2 linked regions of the Homo sapiens genome follow. The protein of the gene in region 2 interacts with the protein of the main gene of each other region in a pairwise test. Each region holds a gene or a part of one and is shown on either strand. Other genes may lie near its edges.

Region 1 (3,749 bases), on a different chromosome or scaffold from region 2:
TTTTCTTTGATAAAGGAATGAACGGTAGACTCCTAGTTTGCAGAAAAGGTGGGAAAGATGTGACTTGTACTTTGGTAAGGAGATAGGGAAGGAATTAAGGCTATTACTCTGAAGAAAGTTGGGGGGCCAGGGCTCCTATTTTTTTGCTGAGGAGATGGAAGATCAGGGCTTGTATTCAATAAGAATGGGAGGGGCCAGGGGATGCCTGGCAAAAGCCTTGCACTGTGAGGTGCAGGTAGAGGCTTTTATTCTGGTGAGAGGACATGGACTCTCTCTCTCCCCTCAGGTAACTGTGCCCTGTACCAGCGGGGAGGCTGGTGGTACCATGCCTGTGCCCACTCCAACCTCAACGGTGTGTGGCACCACGGCGGCCACTACCGAAGCCGCTACCAGGATGGTGTCTACTGGGCTGAGTTTCGTGGTGGGGCATATTCTCTCAGGAAGGCCGCCATGCTCATTCGGCCCCTGAAGCTGTGACTCTGTGTTCCTCTGTCCCCTAGGCCCTAGAGGACATTGGTCAGCAGGAGCCCAAGTTGTTCTGGCCACACCTTCTTTGTGGCTCAGTGCCAATGTGTCCCACAGAACTTCCCACTGTGGATCTGTGACCCTGGGCGCTGAAAATGGGACCCAGGAATCCCCCCCGTCAATATCTTGGCCTCAGATGGCTCCCCAAGGTCATTCATATCTCGGTTTGAGCTCATATCTTATAATAACACAAAGTAGCCACAGACCGTGTCTGGTTTGTATCTGCACCTGGCAGGGGTCACTCCCTGGGCCCGCCCTCCTCGTCCTCCACCTCCTCCTCTTCCTCCTCCTCCTCCTTCAGGTCCTCCAGGATGAGGTTGTCCAGGTCTTCCAGGAGGCCACCCTGGCTCAAGCAGGTGGCCACAGTGGAGCCACTGCTAATGTGAGGGTTGCTGGGGTGGAGCACTTTGGGCAGGTGGTTCTGCTTCCGGCTCTTGGGGTGAGCACAGGATGTCCCAGGCACGTGGGGCTCTAGGGAGGGAGAGGTGCTGCAGACATGGGGCTGGAGGTCCCATGAGAGTCTGGGGAGGAGGGGACTTAGGCCACGCGGGGCTCTAGGGAGGAGCTGAGACCACCAGATACGGGGACCAGCACAACTGGACATTCAGGGGTGTTGAAGATACAGGAGACCTGGGGACATGGGGGTCACCTGAGATTACAGGGGACAAAACAGGGGCCCCAAACCCAGAGACCATGGGGGCAGAGGCCATGGGGACCCTCAGGCACGGGCCACTGGGGTGAAACCTCAGAGCCTCCTGGGCAAGACCACGGAGACTGGGGGGTCATGGAGGCCATGTGGAAGCAGTGGCTGCTGCTGTGGGAGACAAAGTGGACTGAGTGGAGATTTGGGGACTTAAAGGCACAGAAGGGGACAAAGACTGTCCAGGCTGTTGGGGGAGAAGAGCCTCACCTCGCCGGTTGTAGCAGTCGGCAGCTGAGCAGGAGTGAGTGTGGGTGCTGCGGCGATCCGGGTCCCGGTCCCAGCGCGGGGGGAGGATCCGTGTTGGATACACGGGGAAGCCGCACCCGTAGCAGGGGGACGGGGACCCCATCTGTGCCCAGCCCCTGGGGGCGGGCAGGGCTGTGAGGGTCCGAGGGCGAGGCTGGGCCAGGGTGGGGCCAGGGCAGGGAGGGGCAGGGCTGGGGTAGGGCAGGGCTGAGGGGGAGCTGGGGGTCAGCGCCCTCACCGGAAGTTGTGCCGACACTTCGGGCAGTGGAACTCAGCCAGGCCCCACATCTTGTCAGCTGGCACTGGCTCGTAGCGCTTCCGGCATTTCCGGCACCGGGATACCTGGTGGTGGTGGGCAGGAAGGTACAGAGAGGGGACCAAGGATTGTCAGAGGTGTCTGAGGTTGGGGTCAGGGCTAGCAGTGTGCTGCAGCGGCTGGCCTCAGCTTGAGCAACCCAACTCAATCAGTGACTTCACGTGGGTAGCCTGATATTGACCATGGTGGGAATATTTACACCACAGAAATTGGCAAACACTACACATCTTGGCTTCCTGCCTCTTTTGCAAGAACTAGTTAAGCATTGACCAGAAGTGAACTACTAGTCAGGAGGTTCAGAAGCCAGATTTGGGGCTGTGTTTTTGAGGTCAGATTTGGTTTCTTTTCTTTCTTTCTTTTTTTTTTTAGAGACAGAGTCTTGCTCTGTCACCCAGGCTGGAATGCAGTGTTGTGATCATGGCTTACTGCAGCCTCGACCTCCCAGGCTCAAACGATCCTCCCACCTCAGCCTCCTGAGTAGTTGGGACCACAGGCACACACCACCACTCCCAGCTAATTAAAAAAATTTTTTTTTGCCAGGCACAGTGGCTCATGCCTGTAATCCCAGCACTTTGGGAGGCTGAGGTGGTAGATTGCTTGAGCCCAGGAGTTTGAGACCAGCTTGGGCAACATGGCAAAACCCCATCTCCACACACACACACAAAATACAAAAATTAGCCAAGTGTGGTGGCGCAGGCCTGTAGTCCCAGCTGCTTGGGAGGTTGAGGTGGGAGGATCACCTGAGGCCAGGAGGTGGAGGCTGCAGTGAGCTATGATCCCGCCACTGCACTCCAGCCTGGGTGACAGGGCGAGACCCCCTGTCTTCAAAACACATTTTTTTTTGGAGACAGGGTCTCACCCTGTCACCCAGGCTGGTCTCAAACTCCTAAATTCAAGCGATCCTCCCTACTTAGCCTCCCAAAACACTGAGATTGCAGCCATGAGCCACTGCGCCTGGCCAGGTTTGATTTCTGTAGTAGCTGTTCAATTGTGGGTCAAGGGTCAGGTTCTGGGGTAAGGAGGTATTGGGCTTCTCACATTTAAGGTCAGAAGTCCAGTCCTGGGTCAGGGGTTGGGATCAGAGATCAAGGCTGAGCTCTGAGTTTGGAGGTCAGGGATTGGACTCTCAGTGATTGAAATCCTTAGGTCAGAGGTACAGTCACTGAGGATAGGAGTCAGGAGTGGAGTTCGGGACAGTCAAAGTCGAGGTTAAGTTTTAGGTCATCACCTCCTTCCGCTGGGGCACGCGGCGCCACCAGACGTGGTCGCAGGAGGAGCAGGCAAACTGCCGGTCCACAGCAGGGATAAGGTCGTCCTGGGCACGTTGAAACATGCGTAGGTTGGCTTCTGTCAGTGGCAGGAGGGAGGTCGCCACTGCCTGTGGAATGGGGCAGGTGGGGATGAGGTGGGGGGGTGTCACCCCTTCTGCACCAACATAAGCATCAGCCCTCCTCTCCCTACAGACGAGTCCTCTTCCTGCCCCAGTGAATATCTCCCCTCCTGCCCTAATGGACATCCTTCTGTGCCTGCAGATGTCCCCCTCCCAACTCCCCCATCCCAAGCCCTAGCCACCAACTCACCTGAATGTCCCGGTCCTGCTTCATATCTTCTGGTGGATCCTGGGTGGAGATAGCAGGGGCAGAAACTGGGGATGGGGCTCAGGCCTCTTTCCACCCGTTTGCTGGGGGAGGCCCCCGGCCGCAATGAGTAGGGTGCCCCTAACTCGCCAGAAGCTCACAGAGCACCACTCACTTATTGAGAGCCAGGTGTGTGGCCTCAGTTGTCCTCATAGCAGCCCTGAGAGGTGGGCACACCTGTTACCTTATTGCTCAGATGGGGAAACTGAGGCTTAGGGGAGGGCTTGCCTGAGTGAGGCTAGCCTGACCCCCATACTCACTTCCTGCCTGCAAATGCCACATGCTTGTTGATGTTGTGACATATCGCCCCTTTGAGGCCACG
Region 2 (3,749 bases):
CTCAAAAAGGCAAAGTGGTTGAGAAGTAAGATGCTGCATGGCTGGGAGGCTGGGAGTGCACACGTTGATGGGGAAAGGCTGGGGTCCAAGGGGCTCTGCTGGGGGATTTGGGTAGGCAAGTAAGCGTTGTGACATAGGAAGGTGAGTGATCCTGAAAACGGGTAGGGGACCGTGGAAGAGAGAAAGTAAAGAGTACAACGACTGCAGGATTTCAATTTCCTGCTCTAAGAAGAAACACCTCTGAAAAATAATGTGCAACACACGAAGTGCTAAGTAACCTAAACCTTATCATCACCAGTAATGTTTCTGTAAATCTACTCCGCCGTTATTTACTTAATTCTTACAAGGCAGGAATGGAAAATCCCCACTCTCCCTGGTTGCGTCGCAGTCTGTCCTGTGGACATATGTAAGTTTTCCCTCTCCCCCACAGAGCTGATTTCACAGCTAGGCCAGAAATAAGGAACCATCCAGACGGAGACTCGAGGATCGCTCCCTGGCAGAAAAGGGATTAAGTTTCACCGGGCCTCCCCGCCGGCAGGGCGTCCGCAGCCACGCCGGCTGCTGCGACAGCACCGCCCGGCAGACGGCCGGCCAAGGGGCGACGCCTGGGCCGAGGAGGCTGCCGGCTGCGGGAGCGTGGGAAGGCGGCCGTGCCCTTTCCCAGACTCGCGCCCAGGCGCCGGGGGATTCGCTCGACTGCCCGCGCCGGGCCCGGCCAGGCTGCGCAGAGGCCTCGGCCGCCCCCGCCCCGCACCCCGGAGTGCAAACTCCGTCCCAGGAGGGCAGTGGCAGGAACCCGGGCCCCAACAGCATGACTGAGAGCCGGAGCTGAGCTGGGGCCCCCGTCGCCGTTTCGAGCCTCGCGGGCCCCATCACCCTGCCTCGCCGAGCCGGAGAGCCCTCGGCCAACGCCGGGCCCCGGCGGCACCTGAAAAGCGGCCGGAGCCGGAGACTAGCCCTGCGAGGGCTACGACGCTCGACCTCCAGGGCCGCGGCGAGGGGGCGCGTTTTACCCATAGCGTTCCCAGGTGCCAGCCATCTCCTCCGCTCGCTCGAGGGCGCTGGGCTCTCGTCTGCCTCCGCAGCGGGTTGGCTCGGGCTCCGGCGCGAGCTCCCGGGCCCCGGTCGCCGCCGCCGCCGCTACCACTGTAGGCCGCCGCCCGCCTTCGCCGCCGCTGCCGCTACCGTCGCCGACGCCGCGCAGCAGCCGGGATCCGCCAGCCCGCGCGCCCCGCAGGGGACAGCACGGCGGCCGCGATGCTACCGCAGCTGGGCCTCCCGAGCTAAACTTAAGAGTTTTCGCCCCTCAGTCCAGGGGCAGCACCATGACACCACGGCAGCACCACACTGTCATTTCCGCCGCCGCAGAGGAAAAAAAAGGCAATCCCTTCCAAAAGGGAGGCGGAGTGGGGGCAAACGGGGCTGGGGCTGACACCCCAAGGGAGCACTGGGAAGGGCCCAAGAAGAAGGGGTGCTCGGCCACCTTCCCAGGCTCACCTTCCGCCGCCCCCGCCACTCCCAGCTCCCCCAGCCCTTCCTCTGGAGGCACGTTTACATGTCTTCTCCCCTGGCAGGAGTGACCGGAGAAACCTGAGCAAGCAAAGGCAGCCGGTGGGTGGGGCTCGGGTTACTACTGTACCTACCAGCTGATTCCAGCAGCCTTTTCTCCAGCGCCCTGTCATCTTGAAGGAAGACACACCGAGAGGGACCCGGACGGGTGTGCGTGTGTGTGTGTATGGTGTGTATGTGCGTGTGTGTGTGTGTGACAGAGCGACAGAGATAGCTAAATGTGTGTGAAATGCAGAAGGAAGGCTATGGCTAAACTCTTCTCCCACTCCCCAATCCCCCTGTCCCCCAACCCCACAAACCCCCAGGTTAGAACAAGAAAGAGGCCTTTGCAACGGGTAATAAGAAGAGAGAGCCGGGTCCACCGCAGAGATCCTCCCTATGAAGCTGCTCTATGCAAAGTTAACTACAGAGTAAAACAAAAATAGTGGAGGAGATAGAAAAGGGCAGACAATTGAAGGAAACCGAACCTCTCTTTCTTTTTACAAAAAAAGAATGGCTGTGTTTTATTGGCCTCGGGCAGAAGTTGTGGAGGTGGATTAAAACCATCAAAAGAAAAAAAAAAGTAGGATTTTTCTTGTACCTTCAAATTGTTGACCAGTAAAACAAGAGGGTCGTTACCACATGGACAATGAGGCAGATGCTAGCTATCCAGCTATTCCAGGTCCCTAATAAGCTAATTGGTCCATTTGGAATCCAGCATCCTCCCATTGGTCTGGAATCAGCCTGTTTGCTGACCTGTCATTGGCTCAGAGACCACCACCCGACTCAAAAGGTGGATGGGAGAGGGAAAGAGCAGGAAGCCCCATAAGAGACTCTGTTTCTAACTTGGGGCAAAAAGGGAGAAGAAGGGGAAAGAAATGAGAAAATGGGAAGACTCACCCCAGCACACACACACACACGCCTCCCATCATTGTGCATAGGAACAAGTCCAGAAAAATTGAGGTATCTCTTGGTATATCCCTTCAGGGAACCAATAGTAATCAGTCAACACTCCTGTTAAACAATGTGCTAGAGAGCACTGAGGTGGAAACCAAGACAAAAGTCACAACCAGGCTCTCCTGATGAAAGTCTGGCCCCTAAGAGAAGTAAAAGTTAGTGAGTCACACTTAAAGCACAGGCAACAAAAGCAAAAATAGGTAAATGGGACCATAAAACTTTCAAACATCTGCACAGGAAAGGACACAATCAACAGAGTGAAAAAGCAACCTACAAAATGATAGAAAATATTTGCAAACCATATATCGGATAATGTGCTAATATCCAGAATGTATAAAGAACTTCTATAGCTCAATTAAAAAAAAAACTCTTAAAAGTGGACAAAAGACTTGAATAGACATTTCTCCAACGAAGATATACAAGTGGCCAACAGGCATATGCAAAGATGATCCACATCACTAATTGTTAGGGAAATGCAAATCAAACCCCAATGAAATATCACTTCACATCCATTAGGATGGTCACACACACACACACACACACACACACACACACACAAAACAAACACACAGGAAAATACGGCAAGGTGTGGTTCACACTTGTAATCCCAGCTACTCAGGAGGGGATGCTGAGGCAAGAGAGTCACTTGAGACCAGCAGTTAGAGATCAGCCTGGGTAACATGAATAGAACGTGTCTCTACAAAAAATAAAATTAGAACAGAAAATAATAAGTGTTAAGGTTGTGGAGAGATTGGAACCCTTGCACACTATTGTAAAAAGGTACAGCCACTATGCAAGGGAATGTAAACTGGTGTAGCTGCTATGGAAAATAGTATGGAGGTTCCTCAAAAAATTAAAAATAGAACTACTATATGATTAAACAATCTTACTTCTAGATATATATCCAAGCAAATAGAAAACAGGATCTCAAAAAGATACTGGCAAACCCACGCTTACAGCAGCATCATTCAAGAGGCAGAAGCAAATTTAATGTCCATCAAGAGATGAATAGATAAAGAAAATATGGTATATATACACAAGGGCATATTATTCAGTTTCAAAAAAAGAAGGAAATCCTGTCACATGTTACAAAGTTGATGAACCTTGAGGACATTATGCTAAGTGAAATAAGCCAGTCACAAAAAGACAAATATTCCATGATTCTACTTATATGACTGTCTAAAATAGTCAACTCATAGAAACAGAAAGTAGAATGCTGGTTGTCAGGGACTGCGAGGAGGGAA

Evidence for each region. The genes of interacting proteins can lie anywhere in the genome.
Region 1: the proteins of MID2 (region 2) and SHFL interact in binary tests that used the Homo sapiens proteins (3 or more experiments, as listed by UniProt).

The regions. Positions count from the first base shown.
Region 1 is NC_000019.10:10,089,317-10,093,065, reverse strand, and holds part of SHFL (shiftless antiviral inhibitor of ribosomal frameshifting protein), read right to left. Parts: coding exon of another isoform or gene 3,688-3,749; intron 3,588-3,687; coding exon of another isoform or gene 3,577-3,587; exon of another isoform or gene 3,416-3,576; intron 3,410-3,415; coding exon 3,371-3,409; intron 3,169-3,370; coding exon 3,019-3,168; intron 1,817-3,018; coding exon 1,713-1,816; exon of another isoform or gene 1,591-1,712; coding exon 1,436-1,590; intron 997-1,435; coding exon 764-996; 3' UTR 478-763; coding exon of another isoform or gene 287-477; 3' UTR 1-286. Other genes in the region: ANGPTL6 (angiopoietin-related protein 6), read left to right, coding at 287-477.
Region 2 is NC_000023.11:107,823,695-107,827,443, reverse strand, and holds the start of MID2 (probable E3 ubiquitin-protein ligase MID2), read right to left. Parts: upstream 1,579-3,749; 5' UTR 1,018-1,578; coding exon 1,014-1,017; intron 1-1,013. UniProt on the Homo sapiens protein: E3 ubiquitin ligase that plays a role in microtubule stabilization. Mediates the 'Lys-48'-linked polyubiquitination of LRRK2 to drive its localization to microtubules and its proteasomal degradation in neurons.